Linked DNA regions of Homo sapiens. The protein of the gene in region 1 interacts with the protein of each later gene in a pairwise test. Each region holds a gene or a part of one and is shown on either strand. Other genes may lie near its edges. The genes, in order: ASPA, UBQLN3, UBQLNL and DUSP29.

Evidence for each region.
Region 2: the proteins of ASPA (region 1) and UBQLN3 interact in binary tests that used the Homo sapiens proteins (3 or more experiments, as listed by UniProt).
Region 3: the proteins of ASPA (region 1) and UBQLNL interact in binary tests that used the Homo sapiens proteins (3 or more experiments, as listed by UniProt).
Region 4: the proteins of ASPA (region 1) and DUSP29 interact in binary tests that used the Homo sapiens proteins (3 or more experiments, as listed by UniProt).

Annotation. Positions count from the first base shown.
Region 1 is NC_000017.11:3,492,984-3,500,011, reverse strand, and holds part of ASPA (aspartoacylase), read right to left. Parts: intron 5,663-7,028; coding exon 5,553-5,662; intron 1,122-5,552; coding exon 924-1,121; 3' UTR 1-923.
Region 2 is NC_000011.10:5,506,930-5,513,875, forward strand, and holds UBQLN3 (ubiquilin-3), read right to left. Parts: upstream 3,029-6,946; 5' UTR 2,945-3,028; intron 2,699-2,944; exon of another isoform or gene 2,666-2,698; 5' UTR 2,630-2,665; coding exon 662-2,629; 3' UTR 371-661; downstream 1-370.
Region 3 is NC_000011.10:5,513,893-5,520,804, forward strand, and holds UBQLNL (ubiquilin-like protein), read right to left. Parts: upstream 2,808-6,912; 5' UTR 2,550-2,807; coding exon 1,122-2,549; 3' UTR 501-1,121; downstream 1-500.
Region 4 is NC_000010.11:75,070,631-75,077,875, reverse strand, and holds the start of DUSP29 (dual specificity phosphatase 29), read left to right. Parts: upstream 1-4,233; 5' UTR 4,234-4,307; intron 4,308-4,642; exon of another isoform or gene 4,643-4,774; intron 4,775-7,245. UniProt on the Homo sapiens protein: Dual specificity phosphatase able to dephosphorylate phosphotyrosine, phosphoserine and phosphothreonine residues within the same substrate, with a preference for phosphotyrosine as a substrate. Involved in the modulation of intracellular signaling cascades.

The DNA.
Region 1 (7,028 bases):
GTTGTTTTGCTTTCTTATCATTTGTGTGTGTGCACTGGAGTAGAATTTTTAATTTTCTTCAAGATCCTTTTCTTTGAATTCACAACTTGGCTAACCAGTGCAAGAGGCCTAGCTTTCAGCCTGTCTCAGCTTTTGACATGCCTTCCTTACTAAGCTTAATTTCTAGAAGTATGACCCTTTCTTTCACTTGAACACACAGAGTCTGCTGTAGACTTATTAATTATTGTGTCTCAAGGAACAGGGAGGCCAGAGGACAGGGAGAGAGACAAGGAAATGGCCGGTCAGTAGAGCAGTTAGAACTCACACAACATTCACTAAGTTCGCAGTCTCACATGGGCACGATTCATGGTGCCCCAAAACACTTAACAACAGTAACATCAAAGGCCACTGATCACAGATCACCATAGCAGATATAATAAATAAATCATAAAAAAGCTTGAAATATTATCAAAGGGTGACACAGAGACAAGGAGTGAGCACATGCTGTTGGAAACATGGCACTGTTAGACTTTCTAGACACAGGGTTGCCAAAAACCTTCAATTTGGAAAAAAAGTACAAGTACAGTATCCGTGAAGTGTAGTAAGGCAAAGCACAATAAAACAAATAACTTTATATATATCTATTTCAATTTTATATTCTGAATACAAAGGCTGTTTATTAAGAATGTTGAGCTACCCAAGTATCATGTATAATAAACTATATAGAAATAGGAAACACTTCTTTGAATAAGCTACATACATAAAATATGATATCTTTAAAGATATATTAATTAATTTAAGAAATGTGCTTAGATGCCTACCGAATAAGGCACTGTGCTAGGAGCTATGTATGCAGTTGAATAAGGCACAACCCTACTCTTAAGGAGCTTACAGACTAGCAGAATTTGTAAGACACCGTGTAAGATGTAAGCTGGAAGTGATTTCTAATGTAAACAGCAGCGAATACTTTTTGCATTGAGCGTTAGTTTAGTTGTCTTTGCAAAAGCTTCTTTCTTTTCGTAATATGCGGCCTCATTCACAAACACGGGGTACACGGTACAGTCTCCGCCCAGTGGGATCGTCTTCCCATCAAGAGTTAAAAACATGGGATCCCCAGGATGCAGTGGTTTCCAGTCTTGATCCTCTCAGGAAACAATCAAAATAAATATATTATATTTGGTTTTTCTCCTCTAAAAATTTATGTCAGACTCTAGACAACTAACAAATTACAGTATTCTGTTGTTTTAAAAGAGATACTTGAGCGAGGCATTGAGATGCAGGCAAGTGATCTGACTGCGCTGACATTGGGTCGTGAATTTTGGCAGTAGTTTTAAGAGTTCCCCTTTGCATTTGTATAATTGAAACGTGTAATTAACATTTGCTTCAGCCAGGTGCAGTGGCTCCTTGCCTGTAATCCCAGCACTTGGGGAGGCCAATGTGGGTGGATCGCTTGAGCCTAGGAGTTCAAAACCAGCCTGGGCAACACAGAGATCCTATCTCTAGAAAAAATACGAAAAATTAGCTGGGTGTGGTGGTGCATGCCTGTAGTCCCAGATACTCAGGAGGCTGAGGTGGGAGGATTGCTCAAGCCCCCAGAGGTTGAGGCTACAGTGAGCTATGTTCACACCACTGCACTCCAGCCTGGGTGACAGAATGAAACCCTGTCTCTAAAAAAAAATAAAAAAGAGTTTGCTTCAATACCAGGTTTACCTTGAATGTAGCCAAAGAGATTTATAATATTAAAAGGCAAAACTAAATGCATGTCTACCTAAGTGCATAGTCTGCCTGTTGCCAGCTCAAGTTAAATTCTGTTCAGCAAAATTTAGGAAATATCCATTAGGAGTCTTCTGTGTGCAAGACATTCTACCGTTGGGAAATATAAAAATGAGCCATGTTGTACCTGCATACAAGGAGATTCTATTCTGACGGGGATTGGTGAGAGAAGGTGGTGCTGGGCTGGGGAGAGTCTGGGACAAGGTGGGTGTATTCCAAATGTGCTCCTACATTAGGGTAACAACTGAGTTATCTGAAGGGTCCCGCACCAGGGATTTGGACCTTTGAGCCCTCAAGCACCATGGCTGTCACACCACGGGAACCCCAGAACAGTTCTTCTCAAACTTTGAGGTGCTTGTAAATCATCTGGGGATTTTGTTAAGATGAAGATTCTGATTCTATAGGTTGGGGGTGGGGGCCTGGGATTCTGCATGTCTAACATTTCCCAGCAGCATCCGCATCACCCAGGAGCCTGTTAGAAAAGCAGGATTTCATTATGCGCAGCAGACCTACCAAATCAAAATCTTCATGTTAACAGGTCCTTGACGTTCACGTGCACGACATTAGTGTTTGGGAAGTGCCGCATCACCGCAGTTTTCTCCATCCTGGTGGCACATTATGATCGCTTGGGATGTTAAATACATATATACAGGTAGAGGGGCTGGCCCATTTCAGATAAATCAAATCAGAATCTGAGAGGAGGGCCTAGGCATCATTATTTTTATATTTTATTTTTAAATTTACCTACAGTGAAATTCGCTCATTTTTGTGTGCAGTTCTATGAGTTCTGACTTGCAGAGCATGGAGTCATATAACCCGCAACCATGCCATCAGGATACGTGCTTCTTTCAGCCACCTCCTCGAATCCCTCATGCTACCCATTTATAGTTCACTGTTTTCTGTGTTTATTGTATTTAGGCCCCAGATGATTTACAGGGTGGCTCGGCTGAGAACTATTTCTCTGAACCGGTGGTTTTTCAGGCAGAGACTTGCCCCAGAATCACTAAAGGAACCTCTTCAACACACGTCTGGCTAGCCCCACCTGTGGAGATTCCGACATTGTGCAGTGCTATCCAGACCTGAGCCACATGAAAATCACCTGGTGAACTCAATTGATTCCCTGTCTACACCCTGATGAATTAGATCAGAGCCCCTGGGAAGAGGACTCAGAAATCAGCATTTTTTCTTTTTCTTTTTAGACGTAATCTCAGCTCTGTCCAGGCTGGAGTGCAGTGGCACAATCTCAGCTCACTGCAACCTTCACCTCCCGAGTTCAAGCAATTTTCCTGCCTCAGGCTCCCGAGTAGCTGGGATTACAGGCGCCTGCCACCATGCCCGGCTAATTTTTTGTATTTTTGGTAGAGATGGGGTTTCACCGTGTTAGCCAGGATGGTCTCGATCTCCTGACCGCGTGATCCGCCCGCCTCGGCCTCCCAAAGCGCTGGGATTACAGGCGTGAGCCACCGCTCCTGGCCAGGAATCAGCATTTTTAAAAAGCTCCCCATAATTGTCATGTGGCTCAAGTTTGAGAAGCGCTACTTTAGTAGTTTGTGGTGGGTTCTAGGCACTGGGAGGGGGTCCCCTACGTGATTCCAGTTAGCATCCCTTAGTAAGAACTGTCATTCTTAGGACAAAATCTAGACTCATAACCGGGTCCTGAACTGTGTTTTCTCCAGGCTCTACCGTCCTCTGCTCACTCCTCCTCTCCAGGGATATGGGTCTTCTTGCTGTTCCTCAGATGCTCCAAGTTTGTTCCAGCCTCAGGGCCTCTCACTTGCCTTCCACATGGCTGGCTTCTCATCTTCTAGGTTCCAACTTCAGTGCCACCATCTCTGAGATGGCACTTTGTGACCACTCCGTCTAATTGGAACCCTTTGTTATACCCTCTGCTATATTATTTTGTGTATTTCTTTTACAGCACTTATTACAGTTTGAAATGATTTGGTTTACATATTGTTTACTTATTCATGGTCAGTTCTCCTCACCCATTGGGATGGAAGCTCCATGAGGAACCTTCCCTATCTTGAATCTCAAGGCCCAGAATGAGCTTAGTTGTCATTCAAAAATATTTGTTGGCAGAATTAACCAATCAATCCCTCCTGTAGAATACTGAGCCATTCATTATTGTCTGTCAAATCAAAACCATCCTTCCTAACTTTCGAGACCTACCACTAGCCCAGTTTGCTACTGATCTCATTCATCTCACTTCTCCGTCTGCCTGGGATTATTTTTGTACTCCTCAAGAGTATCCTAAAACCTGAAAAATCCTGTTTTAGCCTGCCATGATATCATCACCTTGGCCTCTGTTTCTTGTACTTGATATTTTTGTCACCAATAGTGCTTTCTTCCTTTCTCTCCCCCAGTCTTTACCTTTCCTTTAAAACACTGCTTAAGGCTGGGCAAGGTGGCTCATGCCTGTAATCCCACCACTTTGGGAGGCCGAGGCAGGTGGATCATGATGTCAGGAGATTGAGACCATCCTGGCCAACATGGTGAAACCCCATCTCCACTAAAAATACAAAAGTTAGCCGGGTGTGGTGACGTGAGCCTGTAATCCCAGCTACTCGGGAGGCTGAGGCAGGAGAATTGCTTGAACCCGGGAGGTGGAGCTTGCAGTGAGCTGAGATTGCACCACTGCACTCCAGCCTGGGCGACAGAGCGAGACTCCATCTCAAAAAACAAAAACAAAAACAAAAACAAAAACAAAAACAAACACTGCCTAAGGCTGCTTCTTCAGGTTTCCACCTGGGTCCCATTAAGCCACAAAGCAGGATTTGCTTCACTCGTCTGTATTACTGGGCAGGCCACTTCATTCAGTTGCAAGTCTGGATGACTATTAGAGTCACTAAACAGGGATAGGAACTGGATCAATCAGTGTTTTTCAATCCTGATTATCCAAGCCAAAAAGATCAGAGTATCTCAGAGTGGAGTCCTGCCATTGCTATTATGATGTTTTTTAAAAGCTCTCTAGGTAAAGGTTAGTCGGGGTTGAAAGCCCTGGACTAGATAATCCACCAGTTCTCTTCCATCTCTGAGGTCTGGGAGTGTGCAGGCCACTTGCACTGGGGAATGGATACTTTGGCTTTGGAAATCTGTTCTTCTCTCCTTTTCCCTTTGCCTTTTCCGGATTTAAACCTCCTACATTCTCTCAAGAGCCTTTTTTTTTTCCTTCTTCACTATGTCATTATTGATAAAACTAGGCAAGGAGTAGATTCTGGGGGTTCTGAGGAGAGTTGGGGAATGGTGGCAGAAGAAAGAGGTTCCAGTCGTTTTTCTCTAACTTATTCTGTCACAGGGAGGTAGCAAGTGATGCGGCCAACTTGAAAGAGCACTAACTCTGGATCTGTCATTGATAGCTACATGGCTGTGGGAAGGTTCTAACTTCCGTCCCTGTATTTCCTTATATTAAAATAGACATCATAATTCCCACCCGCTGAATGTGGGTAGGAGTTTCACTTTCTCTAAGTGGCCTTGTCTGACCACTCCTCTCCCATCTCATTATTCTGTCATCTCATCTGGCTGTCTTCATTTCTAGACTAAAGTTAGACTTTTGTGTACCTACACTATAAATTCCATTGAGCGTGCAGGCCATACTTACTGGTGTGTCCACACAGCCAGCACAGGTTACACTGAATAAGTATTTATTGAGCGACAGTCCGAACATCTTCCCTATCTACACTCAGTGTCTAATGAGAGCATCAAATGGGCGAATGTACGCGAAGTGCTGTATGAGCTATAAACTTCTATTCAAAGGTACAGCATTATTATTTTCAACATTTTAAAGAAAGAACAAATGTTACCTGCAGATTAGGATGGATGATAGCAGCAATTTCTCCATTTTCATCCCGGGGGTAATCAACTTTCTCTATAATTTTATAGACCTCAATGGCGCAGGGAGGAAATTCTTTTCCTATGACAAAAACAATATGTATCAATGGCAACTAAAAACATCTCTGGGCCGGGTGTGGTGGCTCATGCCTGTCATCCCAGCACTTTGGGAGGCCGAGTTGGGTGGATCACCTGAGGTCAGGAGTTCGAGAACAGCCTGGCCAACATGGTGAACCCCATCTCCACTAAAAATACCCAGGTTGGGATTATCCTAGTTACTTGGGAGGCTGAGGCAGGAGAATCTCTTGAACCTGGGAGGTGGAGGTTGCAGTAAGCCATTGCACTCCAACCTGGGCAACAAGAGTGAAACTCTGTCTCAAAAAAAAAAAAAAAATCTGGAAAAAGGGAAGTTAACAATGTAAGGAAGAAACAATAATAACAACAGCAACAATAACAAAATGAAGACAGCTATGGGGAGAACAGATAACGTTTAGTTAAGGATGTTCATAAACAGCACTAGGCCAAAAGATGTCCTTGAATGATTCCTATCAGCACTCTGTCCACAAACACGCCGACGGCCAGAGGTAGAAAACAGAACTGAAAAAGCCAGTTTGAGAGAAAAAGAATCTAGGTTTAGGGGTCAGGAGACCTGGGCTCTAATCCCCTGGCTATGCGGCCTTGAACAAGATGCTTAACTTCTTGAGGCTCGCTTTCTTGACCTGTCAAATGAAGGTATTGGATTAGCTTATCTTGGAGGACCCTTCCAGCTATGATGTTTTATGACTGCATATTTTCAGGAGGAGTTCCAGCAACTGAGGTGACTTCAGTATCGTGCTCTTTTTCTTTCCTTTTTTTTTTTTTTTTTTTTTTTGAGATGGAACCTCGCTCTTTCACCCAGGCTGGAGTGCAGTGGCGTGGTCTTGGCTCACTGCAACCTCCACCTCCCGGGTTCAAGCGATTCTCCTGCCTCAGCCTCCTGAGTAGCTGGGACTATGGGCATGCACCACCACGCCCGGCTAATTTTTGTATTTTTAGTAGAGATGGGGTCTCACCATGTTGGCCAGGATGGTCTCGATTTCTTGACCTTGTGATCCGCCCGCCTCAGCCTCCCCAAGTGCTGGGATTACAGGCGTGAGCCACCATGCCCAGCCTCTTTTTCTTAACTAAGTACATTAGACACTTGGACAGCTCCTGAGTAATGAGATCTTGTGATGCAGGCAGCCTGCCAGTGGTGGAGACCAACTTCCAAAGATGCAGCAACCTCAACCCAATTCCCAGAAACTTGGAAAAGGAGTAGTTTATGCATATACCAGGCTATCTCTGAGCAAACAGGATGAACGTTTGGTCCAATGTAGGGCCCACAGCGTGTTATGGTCACAACTCAAAGGAAAGCCTTCCTTTGCTTTTAGAGCAGAGTTAGAATGGGTATGCCCAGTGATCACTTCTGT
Region 2 (6,946 bases), on another chromosome or scaffold:
ATCAAATCCTGGAAGTGCAAGCTGCTTGGGGGATAGTCTTCAGGGGAGATAAAAATAAGAAACTATAACCACTTTTCAGTCAGGCTAGTGGTAGGGAGCTCGGAAAACCAGAGCACCTGGTAGCAGCTACTACAGGACACAAAATCTGAAGAAACGCTGAAAGAACACTGGGAAAGTTGCAGGCCTCGACCTTCAAAAGGTTGCAGCAACATTTCCTCCTCTGTTCTTCATACCTGTGAGTCTTCTAACTTCAGACCTTTTAGTTTCCCTCCAAGTCCTTCCATCCATGTAGAGACAGCCCTTATCACTACTTCTTCTCCCATATCCATCCTTTTTCTCATAGCCCACATGAATGAGACTCAGGCAAGAGTTCACATTGGAAATTGGGTGTAATTGCATCTCAAGATAGGCATAAGCAGAGCTTAGACTGGGGCCCCCCAGTGGTATAGTGGTACAAGTGGTTGACTCACACACAGCACCTCCACTATGTTTTGGCCATTAGTCTTCCTCGTTGACTCTGGAACAACATTGCCTCCACAGCAAAGGACTTCATAGTAAATTTGGTTTATAATGCAGCTGTATTCAAAAATGGGAGAGCTAGGGAACTAGGATATGGGAAAAAGGCACAGAGGAAAACGTATGGTTTGAATGAATAAGGCTCCTACGACTGTCTCAGCTTCTCCACAGCAGCATCCACGTCGCCCCCCGTAGCAATGAGGGCCTGAAGATTGGCTTCACGATTCAGAAAGCCCATGGACCGCAGTTGCTCCAGCTGCACCTGAAAGTGAGCCTCAGGCTGCAGCTGCTGGGGATTTGTACTAACTAAATCTTGCAGCATATGGAGAAAGGGAGGGGAAAGGAAGCCCAGCTCTGCAGAGTCCAGTGCTGGGAACACCTCAGGAGGTGGATTTGGGAGAGGATCCTCAGACATAAGGGGATCTTCTCTAGACTCTATACCTCCTGCCACACTACCCGTCCCTGCTAGGCAAGGCATGAACCAGAGTAGGAGGCGAGGTGCTTCAGTAGCTAGGACCTGTAGACCCTGCTCAATCTGCCGCAGGGCTTGCAGGGCACGGGGGTTTGCCATGGCTGCCTGAAGGTGCATCAGCAGTGGCAGCTGTGGTTGTATCTCATCCTGTAACTGTGGAGCTGGATTCATGCCATCTGGCCTCAGAGATCTTGGATAAGCCGGGGATGGCAGCCAGGGAGGCTCAGGGATTCCAGGAATGGCTGCCGTGGGGGAAAAAGATAAGGGAGCAAATGGAACCCTGTTGGCAGAATCTCCCAGCCCCGAGACAAGATCAGGCAAGTTTGTGCTATGTCCAGTAGAGCTTTTCCCTGCACCATCTTGGTCTCCACCTTGTCCAGTACTGTTCTCTGTGGGGTATCTCAGGAAAGCTGGGCAGGAGGACCTTCCCTTGATTGCTACTGACTCCTCGGGGAGAGGCTGGCCTGACCCAGGCTCCTGAGATGAGGGTGACGATGGGGGAACTCTGTTTACTGATGGTGGTGGTTCCTGGCTTTGGCTGAGGGCAGATGCAGTCCCCTGTAGATAAGTTCCTAGGGACTGGGGGTTCTCGTGTAATTGCTGGAGATAGTCATAGAGCCTTATAATACCCAGAAAGTTTGGAAACCTATTTCTAATGTCAGGTGCATCCTGATCCCCATCCTGCCTTCCTTGCCTGCTACCTGAGCCTCCATGTGTGGAAGTCCAGGGGTTGGGGAGAGGGTCACAATTCTCCATCCTTGAAGGTTGGCTGGTGGTGGTGGTGGCATTATCAGTAGTGGCAGTGGCAAAGGGATTGCCGCCAAACTGCTCCTGGACTGCGTTAAGCATTGGGTCCATAATATCTGTGTACATAGTGCAAAGCACATTGTAGCCACCAGGAATGCTCTCCAAGTTACTGAGCACCCGGTCCTGGCTACGTATCATCTCCTGCATCATGGCAGGGTTACGTAAAAACTCCAGTGTCTGCCGCATAATTTCCGGGTTGTTAAGAATATGCCCAATCTCAGGGTTGTGCTGGATCAGCTGCTGCATATGGGGGTTGTCAAGAACCAGCTGGCGTACTAGGCCTGTGTTGGACAGCAGACCCGGGATGAAGGGGTCATCAATGAGCTGAGTCACAAACTCAGGCACAGACACATGCTGCCGCATCAGGGAGCTTGGCTGGTCAGGGAAGCCACGATAGGCCAAGCCCAGCCTACTGAGGCCTGTGAGGAGACCTAAGCTAAAGGCAGGGGGCCCATCTGCTGGGTAAATGGAGCTTGGCTGAGGGAGTGATCCAGGACTTGGGCCCTGGGTAGGGACAGAGGCAGCTGGGCACTCATTGCCCATGGCACGGTGCTGCCTCTTGATGACCAGGTGGACAGTGAGGCCATCTCGCACTCCACACTGTGCCAGTGAGTCAGGATCCTTGAGGATTTTGCCAGCAAAGATTAGAACAAGCTGATCGGGGTGGGCCTTAAAGCGCTGAGATATCTCTTCCTTCAGCTGCTGGATAGTGCATGTGTCTGTAACTGAGAAATCCTCCTTGTCTTTGGGCGTCTTCACTGTCACCTTGATGAGGTGGGGATCCTGGACTGGTGCTGGGCTGCCCTGTGGCAGGGCTTCTCCACCTTTGGCCATGGTGGCAGCAGGAGGCCCAGATCTGTGGGGACACAGCTAGGGGCATGGGGATTGGAGACCAAGATCATCCTTTCAGGCAATGGCAAAAGTAGGAAGGGTGAGTATGAAAAGGGTCTTGAATATCAGGATAGGGAAATCTGCAGGGTCTACATGAAAGGGGCCATGAGGTTTCTGGGGCAGGATGCTTTAGGAAGATTGCGGGATTGAGATATGTTGGAATCAGGGGAGGGAAATGCAGGGCCCTGGGAAAGAGGTCTGTAGTTGATGAATACAGGGACAAAGGTAGAAGGAAGGGCCCAGCTGGGGTGTACATACCAGTCAGCTGTGGTCCCGTCCTTCTCTTTATGCAGGGCTCCAAACCTCCCTCATCTTGCTACACAGCCACCCCTGAGGCCTTCTGGGCCAGAACCCGCACTATCAGGTCCCTTCTGTGACCTCAGTGCTGACGTCACAGCCTCACACAGAGAAGATTCTTGAGACTTCTCTAAGGAGCTCGGGATCCCTGGGAACTCTTGCTCTCCCATCTTTTACCACTTCTACTTCCTCCACCTCAAGTGCCTTCCTGTGGAGACTTCTGTGGAGGCTCAGACTGGGATTGGAATGTTATAAAACATCTCTCAGTCCTCTCTGTCTCCATTCAGACCCACATTCAGCTACTTCCTGGTCCAGGGTCTTCTTCCTGGTATCCTATGTCCCAGTTTTCTGTCTTATTCAACATTAACCATGAATTCTTTACGTATTTTCAAAGTATTGATTCGCTGATGGATAGGATTTGGGGTATAAGGGAGGAGTCAAGCATGAGATAACTTTTTTTTTACTTTAAAAGAAATTGTTATCCCCAAAGGAACTCAAAGGATTGAATATTTACTAAGACAAAGATTGGGAATAAGCACTTTGTCTAAATTAGCAGGTTGTTAAACAGTTTTACATACATTTGAGATGTCTATTTTACATACAAATGGAGATGTAGTATTGTAGTTTAATATTATAAGTCCAGAGTTTATTAGCATTCAAAGGGTACTTAACATCATGGACTGGTTTAGATTAGCTAGTTAGTGCATACAGGCAAAATGATAGAGATTTTAAAATCTGAGTTTTGTGGCTGTATAACATTTAGAAATCTGGAAGATCAGAAGAATTTGGCAAAGGAAACGGAGAAAAAATAAAAGAGTAAGGTAGAAAAAAAGAGAGAGAAAAGAGAAAGGCCAAAGGAAGAAGAGTTTCAAAAAGGAGAGAGTAACCAATCATGTGAAATGATGCTGCTAGGTCAGGAGGATGAGGATTGAGAATTGGCCACTGGATTTGAAAAAATAAAGAATTGGAGACCATGATGAGACTAGCTTTGGAAGGATAGTAGAGGCAGGAAGCCTAATCAGAGTGTGTTTAAAAGCAAATGGTTTGGGAAAAAGTAGATCCAGTTAGGGCATTTTAAATGCAAGAAAGGGGATGACGGCTATGTGGGGATGTGGGGTTAAAGGCTTTTTAGATTTTTTTCTTAAGAATAGTGTAATGATGTTTATATTCTGATAGAAACAATCCAGTGAGTAGAAAAAATTGATGCATGAGAAAGGGAAAACTATTAAGTTCTTGAATAGATAAGTTAGAGAGATTGGGAGCAAGTGCCTATGTGGAGAGCTTGATTTAGGAATATGAAGTTTATTCATGATAGCAGAATGAATGGGAGGCAGAGTGTATTGGGACAGTTGTAAGCTAGTTGGTTGATTTCATGGTAGACACAGGTAGAAGTCCCTTCTGATTATTACTGTCTTTCTTGTTGAAATAAGCACAACTTTAAGATTTAGAATAAGAAATGGATATTGAAGATCTGAGAAGAGAAAACAAGATATGAATTGATCATCTGAAAGAATAAGTGTTAGGTTTTGAAAGGAAGGCAAGGCTTAAAGAAAGACACACACACAGCAAATGCAGGGTTTATGTCTAGCATAAAACCTAGAGAAGTGTGGGACCAGCCTAATGCCAGAGCCCACCACTGCTTACAGGCTGGGGTAATTTATAGGTATGGGAGGGAGGGGTCTGGGCAGTATGGCTTGCTGCCTGGCAGGATATTGATAAGATGTGCTCATGATGAGGCAGTTTGGTCCTTGTTTCTGTAGGATGTCATCGTGGTGTTCAATGGACCTTTGCGCAGCAAGATATGATAGGGATGTTGCTTTAGTTGGACCTTTGTCTGCCTTGTGGTCAGGTGGTTAGGCAGGATGTTTCTCACAGCCTGAACCCCCGTGAAATGTTTCACTTTGACCAAGGTCTGCAAAATAGTGGGAAGTTTACAAAATGGTGCAGTTTGGACTAACAATAAGGTAGTGAATTAACTAGGATAGTGGATTTCCAGGTATGATCTCCAAACTGACAGCATTAGCATCACCTGGAAACTTATTAGAAATTAGAGATTTTAACCCAACGGTAGACCTACTGAATCTAACACCCTTGGAATGTCGGGCAGAAATCTGTGTTTTAACACGCCCTCCAGGTGATCCTGGTGCAGATTCTGGTGAGAATCACTGGACTGGGAAAATGCAGTTAGAATTACTAAGACGGTAATTAAATCTTTTGGTAATAAGTTTAAATGAAACTAGTCAGCACAGCTGTATGCCGTTTTTTGCCTAAACAGAGACTAGGTGAAGAGTTGAGTATCACCATGATAAGTTAACTAGGCAAGTATTATGCCACAATTATTATCTTCATGCATCATGAAATAATCTTGGAGCCAGAAAACTGGGCTGAGAAGCAGCAAGATGGTGCAAGAGTGACATCTATCCACTTCCAAGTCCAAGGGAAACACAGATGTAGCCACTGCTGGAGAAGCAGTGTCTTCACTAGACATTCAGATCTCCATTATAGCAAAAAGGTGTAGTCATCCTTAGGAAGAAGGTTGTAGATATGTGGGCTTTTCTATTGCTAAATTATGACTTCTAAATGGTAGGATGAAGAGGCTGGAAAACTGGTGACGAGTAGAAAAATGAGTCAAGTGAGGAATTTTCAGAGCATATTGTGATGAAAATAAAAAAGATGACCTGGATAGCCTGAGCTTTTTATGCAAGCTGTAGCAAAGAGGGTATGAAGCTTAATCATATTAAATGGGGAGGTAAAAAATCCATTTTCACTGTAATTTATTTATTGAGACTTATCTTTTTGGTAGGTGTAGACATGAAGTAGGGGTCTTTGGCAGTGAGCTTTCTAGAAACACTTGGAAGTTTGTAGGCCCGCCCTTCACTCTTACCGATGGCCATGTTGGGGCTCAGAAGGGGTGGTCTGTTGAGCACACAAATCTCTGTGGATGGGTCCCCTTTAGAGTCCAGAATCTACTCCTCAACACCTCCCCTGCTCCCACCCTACTGCAAGAAACTACTGTTTCTCAACTGCTCTATCATAAAAGCCTCCTAACTGGTTTCCCTGCTTCCCTGGTTTTCCTCTACCACAGTCCATTCTCCACTCTGAAGCCAGACTGATAAATTGAATTATTTGATTTATTTGCTCAAAACTCACCAGTGACTATTACATTCACAGTAAAATCCAAAGTTTTCACCAGACCTATAAAACTTTTCACAATCTCTCTGACTTCCTCCCCATTCCCCGCTCCTTTTTGTCCATTTCAGCTACATCACCTCCTTGTTATTCTTAAAACATAGCAGGAATACTGCTACCTTGGGCCTTTTACTTTCAGACAGCCCCTGGATCTTCCTTCTCCCAGTGAATTGCATGTTCAGTTCTCGTAGTTACTTCTGACTTCTGCTCAAATGTCACCTTTTCAGAGAGGCCTTCCCTCATCACCCTATGTAGAATATCTTATTCTGATTCATTTTTCTTCACAGCACTTACCACTTAACATAACTTGTATCTCCACAAAAGAAAGTAAAGTCAATAAATAAAGGATCTTTGTTTTTTTCACTGCTATTTTTTTCAATGCCTAAAACAACATTGAATTATTATGGTAAAAGTGTTTTAAATTATTTAATCATGGAATCATTAAAACACAAATAATTGCATATCCTGCCATGGTGGGATACTCTAGGTGAGGCAGAAAGAGAAAAAGGTGGGGCATTGGCAACCATGGAAAATGTAAACTACAAACATAAGATAGATATACTGAAGGAGGTGATATTCTTGGAAGGTGCTGTGCCCCATGGAGGGCTGGATTTGTGGTGACTGGGATATACAGTGGAGATGGCAGCAGCTGCATCTCTGTGTGCTAAAGAGACAGTAGAGACAGCCCATCACCATCTTATAATGGTGGCAAAATCAACGAGCAGGAGGTTCCAATGATGATAACTATTCATCCGGACTTGGTTAATATGTGAA
Region 3 (6,912 bases), on another chromosome or scaffold:
CTCATATTATTCCTGTTCCACTTTCAAACTTGAACAATTTGGGTTTGAGAAATTCAGGCAGTCTTTATGACTAAATATCTGGGCCTATCTATGTAAAATGTTTCCCTTTCTGTTTGAGCATGTTATGATTGTTTTCCCTACATATGGGTCTATTTATGTGTCTCTAGGTATTTGCATCTGTGTTTGCACATGGCTGTGTGTACTCATATGTGGACTCTATATGCCTGTATATGTGAATTTTTTACTATGTGAGCTTGTGTACATACACACACCTGTCCAAGGTGACATGCTCAAAATAATCAGTTTCATATACCATGCTCAAGTTTCATATACCATGCTCAAAATGCTCATGTTTTAGAGATAAAAACATTATTTTTATCTCTATATTAATATATGCATGTGGTTTGTGTGTTAATGTACATATAGTAGGTGAGACAAAAATCTCACACAGCTAGTTTTTTCTTTTTTTTTTTGCAAAAGAAGTAAAGCCAAACCTCAGATCGCAGCAAGTGAGTGTAGCCATTTTATTGACAGATGTTTCAGCCACGACCAATGATCTATTATTCAGTACAAGACACATTGGTTGATAACTCTTATTCCAGGACTTCTCCTGGCTGGAAGCATCAGGAAAGGTGCAAAAGGCAAATGAGATGGTCAGGTGGGTCAGCAGGCAGGTAGCAAGCAAACAAGTAGGCATGGTGGTTAGAATCTCTGGGATCTCTTGAGCTTGCGGATAGCAGCATTGGTGTCCCCTTCAGTAGCAATGAGTGCCTGTAGATTGGCATGGTGGTTCCCAAATCCCATGGCCTGGAGAGAATCCATCTGTTTGCTAAAACAAATCTCAGGAGCTTGCAGAGGGTGGGAAGGGTCCCCATCCGGGGATTGTAGCCTCTGCAGGACTGTTCCAGGCTTGTGGCAGCACTCAGGTCCCTTGGGCTCAGCTGTATCTGAAACATTCCAGGAACAGGGCACTGTGTCAGGATAGCTGCAGCTGGGGGCAGGAAGCCAACCCAGGCCCCATAGGTAGGGTGCAACCCAAGGCAGAAGAACAGGAGCCTCTGTGGCCAGCAGCTGGAGGGCCTGCTCAATCTGCAATATTGCTTGGAATGCTTTAGGGTTGCCTAAGCACTAAGCAGATCAGAAATCTGTGTCTGCTGCAGGAATGTGGGCAGCTGCTGCCTCCACTGTTCACTCAGCTGGGGCATACTTGTGAACAACATAATCTGAGCTGCCAGGTAGGGGTTGTTCATAAGCAACTGCATCATGCCTCCTGTGATCTGGGAGCTGCTCTGCTCATCTGACAGCTGGAGATCACCCTTTAATGTCTGTCTGGAGCTACTTAGAGAAACAGTGGCATCCTTGTATTCTTCTTGAAGCTGCTGGGTAAGCTCTATGCTAGGTAAGGCTGGTATCCAAGCTGGCTGCCGAGTGGCACAGATATGGCTCTGGCCCTTGGTGGAAATCATAGCAGTGTTGGCTTTGGAAGTGTGGTTGACCTTGTTAAGGGTGTCATTGGCTGAGGTGTTTGAAGAGAAACCACCAGAGCTATTATAGATGACTCGGGTTGCAGGATGCTGTGTGAGCTGGTCTTGTTGTTCCTGTGATGGTGGTGGAGGTGGGGGTGAAGACTGGACTTGTTCTAGCACTTGTCCTGCCAGGAGAGCTGTGAAAGGGTTTCCTCCAAAAGGATCTTGCATGCTGTTCAGCATTTGATCATTGATATCAGCATAGTTCTGACCCAGGGCATTATTCCCACCTGGCATTGTCTCTAAGCCCAGATATGGCTGTGGGTTCAGTGGATACTCAAGGTTTTGTGAAGGTTGTTGGATCTGCATTATCTCTTGGATCATAGCAAGGTTCCTGGCCAGCTCCAGAGTCTGCAATAGGATCTCAGAATTATCAAGAAGAAGGCGGGAAACTTCTGGGTTCTGCTGCATCAATTGTTGCGTGTCTAGATGTTCTGAAATGAACTGCCACATGAACTCCATGTTGGACAGAAGCCGCTGGATGCTAGGATTCTCCAGCATCTGTGCTTTGCACTCTGGGTGGCTCACTTCCAAGTTTTGGGTATGCACTTTGGGTGCATCAGACCCCACAAAGTGGGCCAGTTCCACTGGAGCTTGATTCATACCAGTTGGTTGGTGCACTCTGCTGCTGTTTCCTTTGGTGTTTCTGTCCCGGTGGCAGGGATCATTCGTTGGCAGGTCCCGGAAGGAATGGGCTAGAGATCTGGAGCCCTGCTTGGACTTGATGACCAAGTAGATGGTGTGGCCATCCATGATGCCCCTCTGGCTCAGTGTGTCATGGTCTTTGAGAAGGCAACCCATGAAGACCAGCACTAGTTGGTCCATCTGGCATTGGAAGTGAGCCAATAGCATCTCCTTGAACTGCCTTACCGAGATGTCATCAGCTACCATAAAGTCTTTCTGGTTGCCTGCAGTCTTCACTATCACTCGAGTGGCACTTGAAGAGATATTTTTGTCTGCCAGCAGACCTGATGGACATCCACTCTGGGACATCCTGGATGTTCGAGAGATGGCATGCCACATGGGCTTTAGTGGGTGGGCAGATGGGGAGCAGGTGGAAGCTGGGGCAGAAAGGGTGAGGGCAGACAAATGTTTCTGCTGGCCTTTGTCTCAGGTATTGTGCTCTCAGGCCACAGGATAGTTTCCTTGTTGCCCTAAAAGGGATGAGTGACCAGACTGGGGCCAGATATTTTGTGATGTTGTGCCCTCACCCCAGTTCTCCAGATGTGGCCCAGCTGAGGCCTGGCATAGCTACTGATTCATAATTCACCCATGGTGGACAAAGTGGTGATGACTTCTCCTAGGGCTACCCCTCCTCCTACCCCACCCACCAGGGGCATGAATCCTCAGAAAAGGGATATTGTGATGTCAACTCTATCCTCGCAGTCACCCTGGGCCAGCTGGGGAAGGAGGACATATTTAGGGGTCCAGGGCTCTACAATAAAATAAAATAATTTTCCAGAAAACAGGGACAAAGTTCTCTGGATGGAACTAGTAAGAAAACAAAAAAGTAAATAAAAACCATATTTTTAAATGTGGGATGTGTGTTTCCGTGTGATACTGTGTGTATGTTCCTTATAGGGATGTTAGACTTGTATGAAAAGTTGGGTCTACTGAAGCCATAGATAAAGCCACATTCCTATAAGAATGCAGTCTCTCCCATAGGAAGGAGCGCATTAATTTTTTTAATGATCTGGAAATTTGGGTCTTATATAGAGTCTAGATTTTGGGATTCTATATTTAATTGTGCTCCCATGTGGTGGGGAAAATTTTCCTCTGTCCTAGGAAGCAGGAGTAGGGCTAACCAGGAAGGCTCTTCATAGGCACATGCCAAACTAAATGTGAATTAGCTCTTTTTTATAATATGCCTTTTATTCACATATCACTTGGTCTCTTCTACATGTCAATATAACAGAAGTTTTAGAATGATTTGTTTCAATGTCCTAACCCACTCTTGTGTGCCCACCTTTATGTCAAAGCATTAAGGGGGAATGTCGTCTGTAAATCAAGAGGTGGGAGAGGAGGTGGTTAGTAGTAAAATTCTTAAGGGGACAAATACAGGCAACTAAAAAGCTGGATTCTTGGTCCCATGTAAATTTGGAGAATTGTGTTTGGTTTTTATTTAGATGCAGATGGAAATAATTATTTATATGAGTGAGAGTGTACATGTCTTATCGAATGTATATATGAAATTGTATGCATATTCTGTGTTACTAGGAAGCCTTCAGGGTCTGGATTTTATATATTCCATCCACCTGCCTGGAGAGGGAGGAGCACCACACAGATAGCTAAGGAACAAGCAAAAAGCTCGAGCCCATATGTTCCCAGTGTGTTGAAGACAAGCAAAGGGATGATAGGCCGTTGGCCAGGAGACCTTCTGCTATCAAACCAATGATTCTTTATTGAGAATATCTAGACCCCCAGCACCATCCATGTCAGATCCTCATCATGCTATAAGGCCAGTTGCTAACTTACTACAGCAAGACTCAGGCCTATTCTCTTGCAATTGCACTCAAAAGTGAGATCGATCCAGGACAATGAAAAATTGATTACCAGACCAAGATCTTGCCCCTTTTCTCCCCAGGGACCTCACAGGAAGGTGGAGATAAGAAAGGGAACTTTCATATCCTACTCTAATGACCAGCTGCCCTGCAGCTTCTGCACTGGAATCAGGTGTTCCCAACCTGAGATTGACAATTCTAGATCACAGAACTCTTGAGTTCCGGGAGCTGGATTTATGAAAAAAGGAATATGAGATGCCAAAGCATCAGAAAGAGAGGGTACCATTTTCTTAGCTAATATTTTACTTTTTCCCTATCAAATCCACCTAGACCATTATTAAAGGGAACCTTAATGTACTGATTGAGATATTAATTACATAAAGAACTCACTAGATATAATCAGTCTTCCAATCATTAGGACCAATGGCCACTTTGGGATGTGGTCCTCCTGGAGGTAAGGAAGAGGGCACACTTCTACCAATGCTCTGCCTAGCCCTGGGGTCTCAGGGTCTGGAAGCCTCGTTAGGTTTGACAGGTTTTGGTGGAGCATGAGCCCCAGAGGGCCTCCTGGTGGGTGGTCTTGGTAGCCTGGTCTTCATTGTCAGGAAGGTGAGGTCATAATTTATCAGGTAACCATCACTGAAGACATACGGCTTGTGGTCTGAGGGGCAGTAGTTGATGCCCTGCAGCTTTTCCAGCATCTTGTCCAACAGGATGCTGAGGCGGCGCTCCTGCCCGGTGGTGGTGTCAAAAGCATAGAAGATCTCCTCTTGGTGGGTGTTCAGTGAGTGTAAGGCATAGAGCACCCCACAGGCCATGAAGGCCCCTGACAGGGCTGGCTTGTACTGGCTGGTACGCCAGGTTTTCTCCACTTCTAGGGTGCTAGCGTTGAGACGACTCACAACCAGGTTGCCCTTGCTCTCCTCAGTGGCATAGAGAACCCACAGCCCCTTCTCATCACCAGCAAAATCTAAGTCCTTCCAGGGCACACCAGCATAGGAAAAGCGGTTGTTATAGGTGGCACCAGGCAGCAGACGCCACAGCACCAGTGTGTTGGAGGAAAGGTCCATTTTGGCCATGTCACTTGTGCCACAGTAGTTAAAGTACATAAAGTTCTTGTACACAACGTTTCCACTGCCATCACCATAGCCCATCTTCCTCTCTTCATAGTTTTTCAGCAGTGCGAGGTCATTATAGGATTTGCACAGCCGATAGTAGTCAAAGTACCTAGGCCAAGTCCCTGCATTCAGAATTATTGGGTGACAGCCATAACTAAGGTAACAAAGAGCTACAAAAATAGGCAGATCAGTTTGCTAATTAAGAGCAGGGGCTTTGCTATCAAACAATTGACTTTAGTTCATCTTTCACTTACTCAACCATGACAAACTAAACAATTATTTTTAAAAGTAACAGTAATAATAAAACACCAATAGCTACAGTGCCTATTAGACACTATATATGCACAATCTTATTTAATTATAATAACAGCACTGTAAGGTAGGTTTTATCCTTACAGATGAAGAGACTAAGTCTTAGAAAGGTTGAGTCATTTGCTCGAGGTCACACAGCTTATAAGTAAAAACTGTAAACAAAAGTAACAAGCTACTTTATTGACTGTTAGGACTGTCCAAAATAAAGCAAAGAAAACAATTAGTACAGCATTTGTTTCAATAAGCAATAAAAAATGGTAGCTATTATTTTTTCTTCCTTATGGAGATTCTTCTGTATCTACTCTGCACTGCCTTCCACCTGTCCTCAAGATGCAAGGGTCCTGTAACAGGACATATTTCTGGAGCTGGATTCAGGGAGATTTGTTCTCATGAGGTCACATTGGAAAGTTCCTTAAATTATCTCTGAGTTATGAGTAATCTTATCTCTTAACATTGTTCTGTAAGTCCTGATTACCTATAGATTTTGAGAGGGTTCCAAGGCGTGTAAATGTATTTTATAGGCTACAAAGTATAGCACATATGAGTTATATGCTACAAATTGTGGCCTATACAATACATTTTAGATAAGCATAGAATTTTGGGAATATTATTTTCAGTAATACTAATTTTCAGTAACACTGATCTTTCTGAGTTGAGCTTCAACTGGAGCTCTTCAATGACTGGTTCAACCTAGATTCATGTCTCTCTCTCGCAACAGGTCTATATCACATTTTCACACACACTGGCTTTTAACATTCTGTGTGTTGGGCCTACCTCCCTAGCAAGGTTGACAATGTATTGAAGGTCTTATTCGTCTATTTATTGACTCTTTTAGCCATTCTTTCATCTAATAAATACATATCATCACCTATGTTTTACATACTTTTCTATGTAATCTTATGTGATCTTCTCAAATATGTATAATTATCCTCATTTTACATATGGCTAAGAAAGGTTCTGAGATGTTAATTCATTTTCCCAAGGTCACTTAGCTTAAATGGCAGTATAGAGTTTCAAACACAGATTGGCTTAATTCCAAGTCTCAAGCTTGGCCAGAGACATGCTCTGAACTTCTAAGCAGGAAGTTAGAATTTTGAGGCCCAGGTGTAGAAGAGTTTGTTCTTTACATAGAATCAGAGTAGAAGTAGAACCATCTTTGAGTTACTATGGGATTAAAATTTGTAGGCAGTGGATTTGTGAAGGAAACTCAGGGCAGTCTGGGTCACGCTTGTCTCATGAGAAGAGCGTTAGGAGGTGACCTGTCAGGCCTAGGCTAGGTTTGCTTTGGGGCATACTTAAAATAGAAGAAACCAGCGTGGGGCTGTAAAGAACCCTGTTTGGGTATGGGTAGGGGACATTTGGAATTAATCCGATTGCAGAACAGAAGTCACTCAGGGCTCACCTGCCATCTGTACGTAGAGGAGCAACCCAGTAAAGGGAAGAGGCTGGATTGGG
Region 4 (7,245 bases), on another chromosome or scaffold:
CCTTATCTGTACAAAAAAATTTTAAAATTAGCTGGGCGTGGTGGTGCACGGATGTGGTCCCAGCTACTTGGGAGGCTGAGGTGGGGGGATCGATTGAACCAGGGAGGTCGAGGCTGCAGTGAGTTATGATCACACAACTGCACTCCAGCCTGGGTGATACAATGACACCCTATCTCAACAAATATAAATAAATAAATAAAATATTATAAAAATGAAACTATTTACAAGTCTAGTAGCCAATGTAAAGAACTGTCATTATGTGTTACGCTCATTACATCTAGACCTACATATATATGCTTTAAAGAACACTATGGGGCCGGGTGAAGTGGTTCACGCCTGTAATCCCAGCACTTTGGGAGGCCGAGGCAGGTGGATCACCTGAGGTCAGAAGTTCGAGACCAGCTTGGCCAATATGGTGAAACCCCGTCTCTACTAGCTGGACATGGTGGCGGGTGCTTGTAATCCCAGCTATTTGGGAGGCTGAGGCAGGAGAATCACTTGAACCCGGGAGGCAGAGGTTGCAGTGAGCCAAGATTGTGCCATTGCACTCCAGCCTGGGCAACAGGAGCAAAACTCTGTCTCAAACAAACAAACAAAAAACCACTATGAACTGTGTAATATACGAAAATATTTCTCAGCTATTGCAACTGTCAGAATACCATGCTAATTCTGGAGTGCCCCCAGAACTGTGAGGTGAAACACAGACATCAGGACGCTCAGCGCTACCAGGTCCTTTATACTATCTGAGTAGATATACTTGACAAATAGAATAAGCCCCCTTTCTTCACCGGGAAGCCCTTCCATAGCTCAAATCCTCCTAGTACTCCAAAGCAGTGTCCACCTCCAAGGTCAGTGGCAGCACAGCCCACCAACCTTCATTTAATTCATATTTAGTTACCTTTGATTTTGAGAACACAGAGCAAGAGAAAGGGAAAAGCATTCTCTGTGGCCTGTGGATGGTTTTAATTACAAAAATGGGTAGAGTTACAGTCACACTTTGCCACTGCTGAAAGCCAGATCCCAAGAGAACAAAGCACCTACATATTCTTCTTCTTTTTTTTTTTTTTGAGACGGAGTCTCGCTCTGTCTCCTAGGCTGCAGTGTAGTGGCACAATCTCGGCTCACTGCAACCTCACTGCAACTTCTGCCTCCCGGGTTCAAGCAATTCTCTTGCCTCAGCCTCCCAAATAGCTTGGATTACAAGCACCCGCCACCAAGCCACCTGGGTGAGCTTGTTGGATGAGAATGGGGGCACCCTAGGCTTAGTCTGCCTGGGAGGTTGAGACTAAGAGGGAGTTGAGCTGCTCTGCATGACAATAGGAGGACTCTCGAGCCTGTTGAGGCACTCGGCTCTAGAGAGGAGGGGAGAGATGACGAATGAAGAAAAAGGAAGGCTGTGACAATCGCATGTACAGAGAGGAGCCTCATGAACACAGCAGGACACAGAAAGTCCTTGGAGATGGGGCCTAGCCAATAATTTTCAAAGAATGGGGAGGTTAAACCTTGAATGTGGACTTGTCTCCTGCTCTGTGCTGCAATCCCTCTGCCCCACACAATCCCTTGGGTGAGTGATGGAGGAATAATAGAAGATGGTGGTGTCAAGCTCAGAATGAGGTTGTAGGAGTGATAGGCCAGAGAGTGCCAGCAAGGGTGGAGAGGCCACAGCAGAATTGACTTTGGAGAAATGAGAGCCATCCTACTATTCTTTTCCCAGGGATAAACAGTCCTCTGAGATGTTGGAGAGGGCTTTGGACTTCCTGCAGAACATAGGCCTCAGTTTCTCTTGCTTTGCTTTGCTTTTTAATGTGAAGGAAAAGAGAGCCGTCTGGGAGAGCTGCAGACTTACAGCCCTTGGATCCGGCCTCTGGGTGGGCAGGGAGGCCTCTCCCCTGGGCTGCAGCTGGACTCAGCCTCCATGCATATTCAGGTATCCACAGGGCACTAAAAGCCTCTGGATCTTCTGGACCCAGAAAAGTTTGGGTCCAGGACGGCAAACTTCATATGTTAGTTTCCCCTGTTGGCCGCTGGTTTTGAACTCTTGACATCAAGTGATCTGCCCGCCTCGGCCTCCCAAAGTGCTGGGATTACAGGTGTGAGCCACTGCGCCCAGCCAGTAACAGTTGTTTCTACAGGATTATACTTGACCTGCATGAATGGAGCTTGCTTTTTCACAGAATCCTAGGAAATCTCCTTGGAGTTGGGAACAATTGGACACATCTCTCAGTCCAACTGATGCTTACCTGGCTCGCTCCCATCTTGATGGGATGGTGTGTTTCCTTCATCTACATGAGGCAGCTCTTGGGGTGTCTCCCAAGGTCCAGGTTCTGCCCTTAGTGTTGTGCAGAGAATGTTGGTGTTTCCCCTTAGCTCCTCGAAGACAGACCAGGTATCCTCTACCACCACCACCACTCTTTTCTAAGAAAACCTTCCCAGGGCTTCCTTCAGTTCCCCATAGTAAATGATGGTTGTTTTTTTTTTAACCCTTCTCTATCCTTGTCACCCTCTTTTGGGCCTATTTTAATGTGTGAAGGATTAGAGGAGGGGCCATCAGTCTTCTGGTTAACCACATGTAGGGTCTACTTTACTGGAGGTGATAATCCAACAACCCACCAAATTCTCCTCTTGACTTCCTGTAAATTAAGTCATTGAACGTTTCCTAGATGGTGTGAAATACTCTCTCTCTCCCTCTCTCAGTCATCTAGCTAGCTCAGATGTCTTTAGATATGTTATGTTTGCTCCCTGCTGAAGCTGCATCTTCAGAGCTCCCTTTTGCTTCCTCAGCCCTTGACTGGGGCTGGGGCTGCCCCCCAGGCTTTCAGCTAAGGAGAAATCTTTCTTCTCTATCTTTGGCAATTCCAGCATCTCTGACTCCCTTAGTTCTTGGGGTAAGTGCAGAAGGGCCTTTCGACCTTGCTGTTTTGACTCCAGCACTTGACAGCAGGGACATTTGGACTCTGACATTCTGACTTCATTGTACACTCAGATTCTGTGTATTTGCCTTGGGAATTTTCCTCACACCAAGAAATCAATAAAAGCTAAGTCACTTAGCAATGAATAGTACTAGTAGAAATAATTGCTATAAATTAAACTGGCAGTAGCTAATGTAGCAAATTGTGAGGAAGATCTTTGGTTGGGTGAATAAAGTTTCAGAGGACAATATAATGACCCCAATGCAAGAAGATTGTGTTAAGTGAAAGATGTGGGAGCCTGGTGCTTCCTTCCCTACTTCTCCCAGTCCTTCACACACTAAAGCATGCCCCAGAGAGGATGACAAGGATGGATACGAATGGAGAACCACGTCATTCATTATAAGGAACTGTAGCAAGCCCTGGGAAGATTTTACTAGAAAATTAGAGGAGACTGGGCAGGATTTTGCCCGTAAGTATTAAAAAGCGGGGCTACATTGGTAGGGCTTGGTGGGAGGGATCCCAGAGCAAAGAACTCTGGAGCCATTGAGGAGGAAGGTTGACAGAAGAAAGGGCCAAGAAGAGAGACCTGGGAACGACTGTTAATGACTGTTAACGTTAAATATATATATATATATATATATATATATATTTTTTTTTTTTTTTTTTTTTTTTTTTTTTGAGACAGGGTCTTGCTTTGTCACCCAGGCTGGAGTGCAGTGGCACAATCTTGGCTCACTGGAGACTGTTAAATATTCTAATACCACCAAATTCTTTATCTCATTCAGTCCTCATAGCAATGTAAGAGGAGGATATTATGATCATTATCCCCACTGAAGCCCAGCATGGTTGGGTGCTTGCTGGGGTCTCACTGGAAGCCACACAGCACAAACTCTGCCCAGAGTTTCATTGATTACCCTGTGTGATGTGGCATCCATTCCATTGGCCTCCCAGAGATAGCTCCACAAACTCTCAGAAAAGACTGGAATAGAGAGCTGTGCCAGTGGGCAAACCTCCCCTGTTCTAGCTGTTCTGGGACAGGGCTCAGGGCAGGGCCTGTAGACACCTGGCTTCGTCCATCCCAGGAAAACAAAGTTGGAAAATTCCTGTCTGTCCCTGCCCTGGTGGCCACATGTCCTGCCTCTGTGGCTGGGCCGGGGACAAGCGTGTAGGCTTCAGGTACAGGGCTTCCTAAGTCAAGGGTTTCAGGTCGCACTGGAAAATCATTTTGCAAGCAGATGTCATAGGTCTCCTCTTAGACTGGACGGCACGCAAGGTCAGCGTCAGCAGATCTGACCCTAAAAATAGGCCTCTGTTGCCAGTGGGGGTGGCTGGGCGTGCGGCTGCTACATGCCCCACGGACCAGAACCTCCCGACGCGGCCAGGCCCCGGCACACCCAGGTAAGGCCGCTGGGTGGGGAGGCCGGCACCCCTTGGGTTCACCCACGTGTTCTTTGGGGGCCTGGGTGTGGGGATTAGAAGCCCCTTTTCCACCCTGTTCCTGGTGCTGTGGGGAATAGCCGACCTCCTTCTAGTGTGAAAGGTTTCTTGCTGTCCTTTTACGAGAGACACCATGGAATTTTCTCCATTTCCCTTTCTCCAAATCTGAACTTCCAGTTCAACGACCATTTCTAAAGGATAATGGGGTGGATTAAAGCTCATCGAGCCCTTGTGAAGCATTGGATGTATTGTATCATATTCCACATTCCAACGAGGTTCTACGTTTGTCCATTTAGCCAGTAAAGGGGGAGAAATCTCGGGGGCGAGAGAGAGAGAGGCCCTGGAGTGACTCGGATCCTGTGTAGGGCAGCATCAAAGACAAGAAAGTACTTAAAGCTCCAGGGATGAGAATTCTCCCTGTGTCCCAGGTAACACAAAAGCGTCATTTGGACAGAGTGGCGGGTTTGGGAGCATTTCTCAGTCCTGGTGGGAGGATGGGGTTGGGGATGACGCTGCCGTGGTAGAGATGGGGGGTGGGACTGGGTCATGAAGGATCAGAGCCACTGGACCAAGAGTGTAGGCTGTACCGCGTGTGGGCAGGAGGCGGGATGGGCCTGTGTCTCAGACCTGTGTGGGCAGGAAGTGGGACGGGCCTGCGTCTCAGACCAGGGCTCTCCCATTAGACCCTGGTGCCCTTGTGCTGTGACCCCAGGGGTCCCTTCATGGGCCTGGAACCCAAGAACAGTTGGGCCCGGGGGCTCTGATCGTTCGGGAAAGCGGAAAATGCTCCAGCGAACAGGAGGAAGGGCACGAGGAGGATGTCTGGAGAGGTTGCCACACTCACGGCCGCCAGCACCTGAGGGTCCCTGGCCCTGGATGTTTTTTCCGCTGCCCCCACCTTTAGCTTGTGATCCCTCCTTGTTCTCATCATGAGAATATCATTTGGTCCCACCGACAAATCCGAGGACTCTGACATTAATAAACAACACTTGAAGGGCTTCTGAGCTGAGTTCTTAACAAGGAAGGCGCGTTGGGCATGGAGGCTGGGGTGGACATGGGGTGGGTCTGAGGAGAGTTAGTGGGAGTGAAACAGGAAAGGTTCCTTTGTCCCTCTCACAGGGCATGCGACGGGGGTGTGGCTCGCTTGTTCAGTACCCAGCTGCTCAGACCTCTAGAGGAGCATACAGACGGGCAGGCTGTGGGGCTCTGACCCCATGGCAGTGTCTAGGGGTGAATGTTTACAGCTGAAGCCCCAGTGGGTGTGTGTTACAGGGTGCTCTTTTAGTTTGCTGTCTATAGGCGGCTTGTGTTAACTGGCTCAATTAGACCTCCTTCCTTATCACAAGGACAGAGGGATTTCTGTATCCTGGGGTTTCTTGCCTTGGTGTAGGGGAAGAATCAGATCACATGTGGGCTTGGAGAAGAGTGCAAGGTTTTATTGAGTAGAAGTAGCTCTCAGCAGATGGGGGAGCCAGAAGGGAGACAGTTTTTCCCTGGAGTTGGGCCACTCAGCAGCCGACTCTTCTCCTCCAACCGCTCTGGCCAAACTCCGCATCATTCCGCTTGTCAATGGCCTGCAGGCCTGCCAGTGCCTGTCGGCGTGATCTTCTGCCGGCGCGCTTTTGACAACCAGCCGCTTGTGTCTTCTGCCTATGTGTTCCTCAGTACGTCCAGCCGGTTGTGTGTCTCAGGTTTTTATAGGCACAGGATTGGGGTGTGGCGGGCCAGGGTGGTCTTGGAAAATATAACATTTGGGTGCGAAGGCAGGAGTGCCTGTCCTCACCTGGGTCTGTGGAGGTGGAGCCCTGGCCAGGGACCTGCCTTTCTCTACCCAGCACTTCCTGGCCCTCCTCCGGTATCAGGATCTCACTTGGCTCTGAAGGATCTTCATGGGCAAAGGCAGATCTGCGCTGAGGGTGAGGAGAGAGCCAGTGGTCCTCTGCCATCAGACAAACTGGAGCCCTTACTGGGGACATTTCAGTCATGGCTGACACCTGGGTTGGGTGGGAACCTGGTCCTGTCTGCGGGTGGCACTCCCGTGGCTGTTGTTGACCCCACAGTAGATGAGGGGCTTAGGGGAGGCCCTGAGGCCAGGGGCTGGGCTGTGAGCATCTTCCAGCAGCCCCAGGGAGGCCCAGTTGAGTCCACCAGGGTGGGGGTGAGCAGCCTCCACCAAGCCTTCCCCAGACACTGCGGCCCCGAGGCCTGGCGGTGTTTCCTGTGCTATGTGTCTGGCACTGTTCCAAGAGCTTTCCTGACAAGCAGGAATCATTTATTCCTCAGAATTGCAGCAGCTTAATGAGGGATGGACAGCACAGCCCCATTTCAGATTGGACACGGAGACACAAATACTAAGTGTTCTGCCCAAGGTCATGCAGCCTAAACAGGGGCAGAGGCCAGAACCCAGCGTGCCTCAGAGTTTCGGGGTGTAGCCCCTTTGCTCTGGTGCCTCTCATTGGGGTAGAGGCCTGGTGGCATCTCACTCTCCTACTCCTCTCAACCCCTAAACTCCAACCAGGGCCCCTGTCTCAGGGAGGCCCGGCCTGGAAACAGCCACTCCAGGTTCCTGGGCCAGGAGTTAGCTGTTTGTCCTCTTCGGCCTGATTTCAGAGCAGATGGTGTTTTAATCTCCTCTTCTGGTGACCATTCACGTTTCTGGGCCTACCCGTTCCACAGTAACGAGGGGGTCAGATCTCCTAGCAGCCTGACACAGCGACCAGAGGCTGACTAGCTGGGGAGAGTCCTTTCTCCTACTCTCTTGCATGTCACGCAGGAGGCGATGGGTCCTGTCACCCACAGGACAATGCTCAGGCTCACATGAGTCCATCTCCTCCGCCACAGCTTCCCTACCAAGACCTCCGCCCCGGCCAAACTGCTCCACCCACTCTTTCCTATTCTC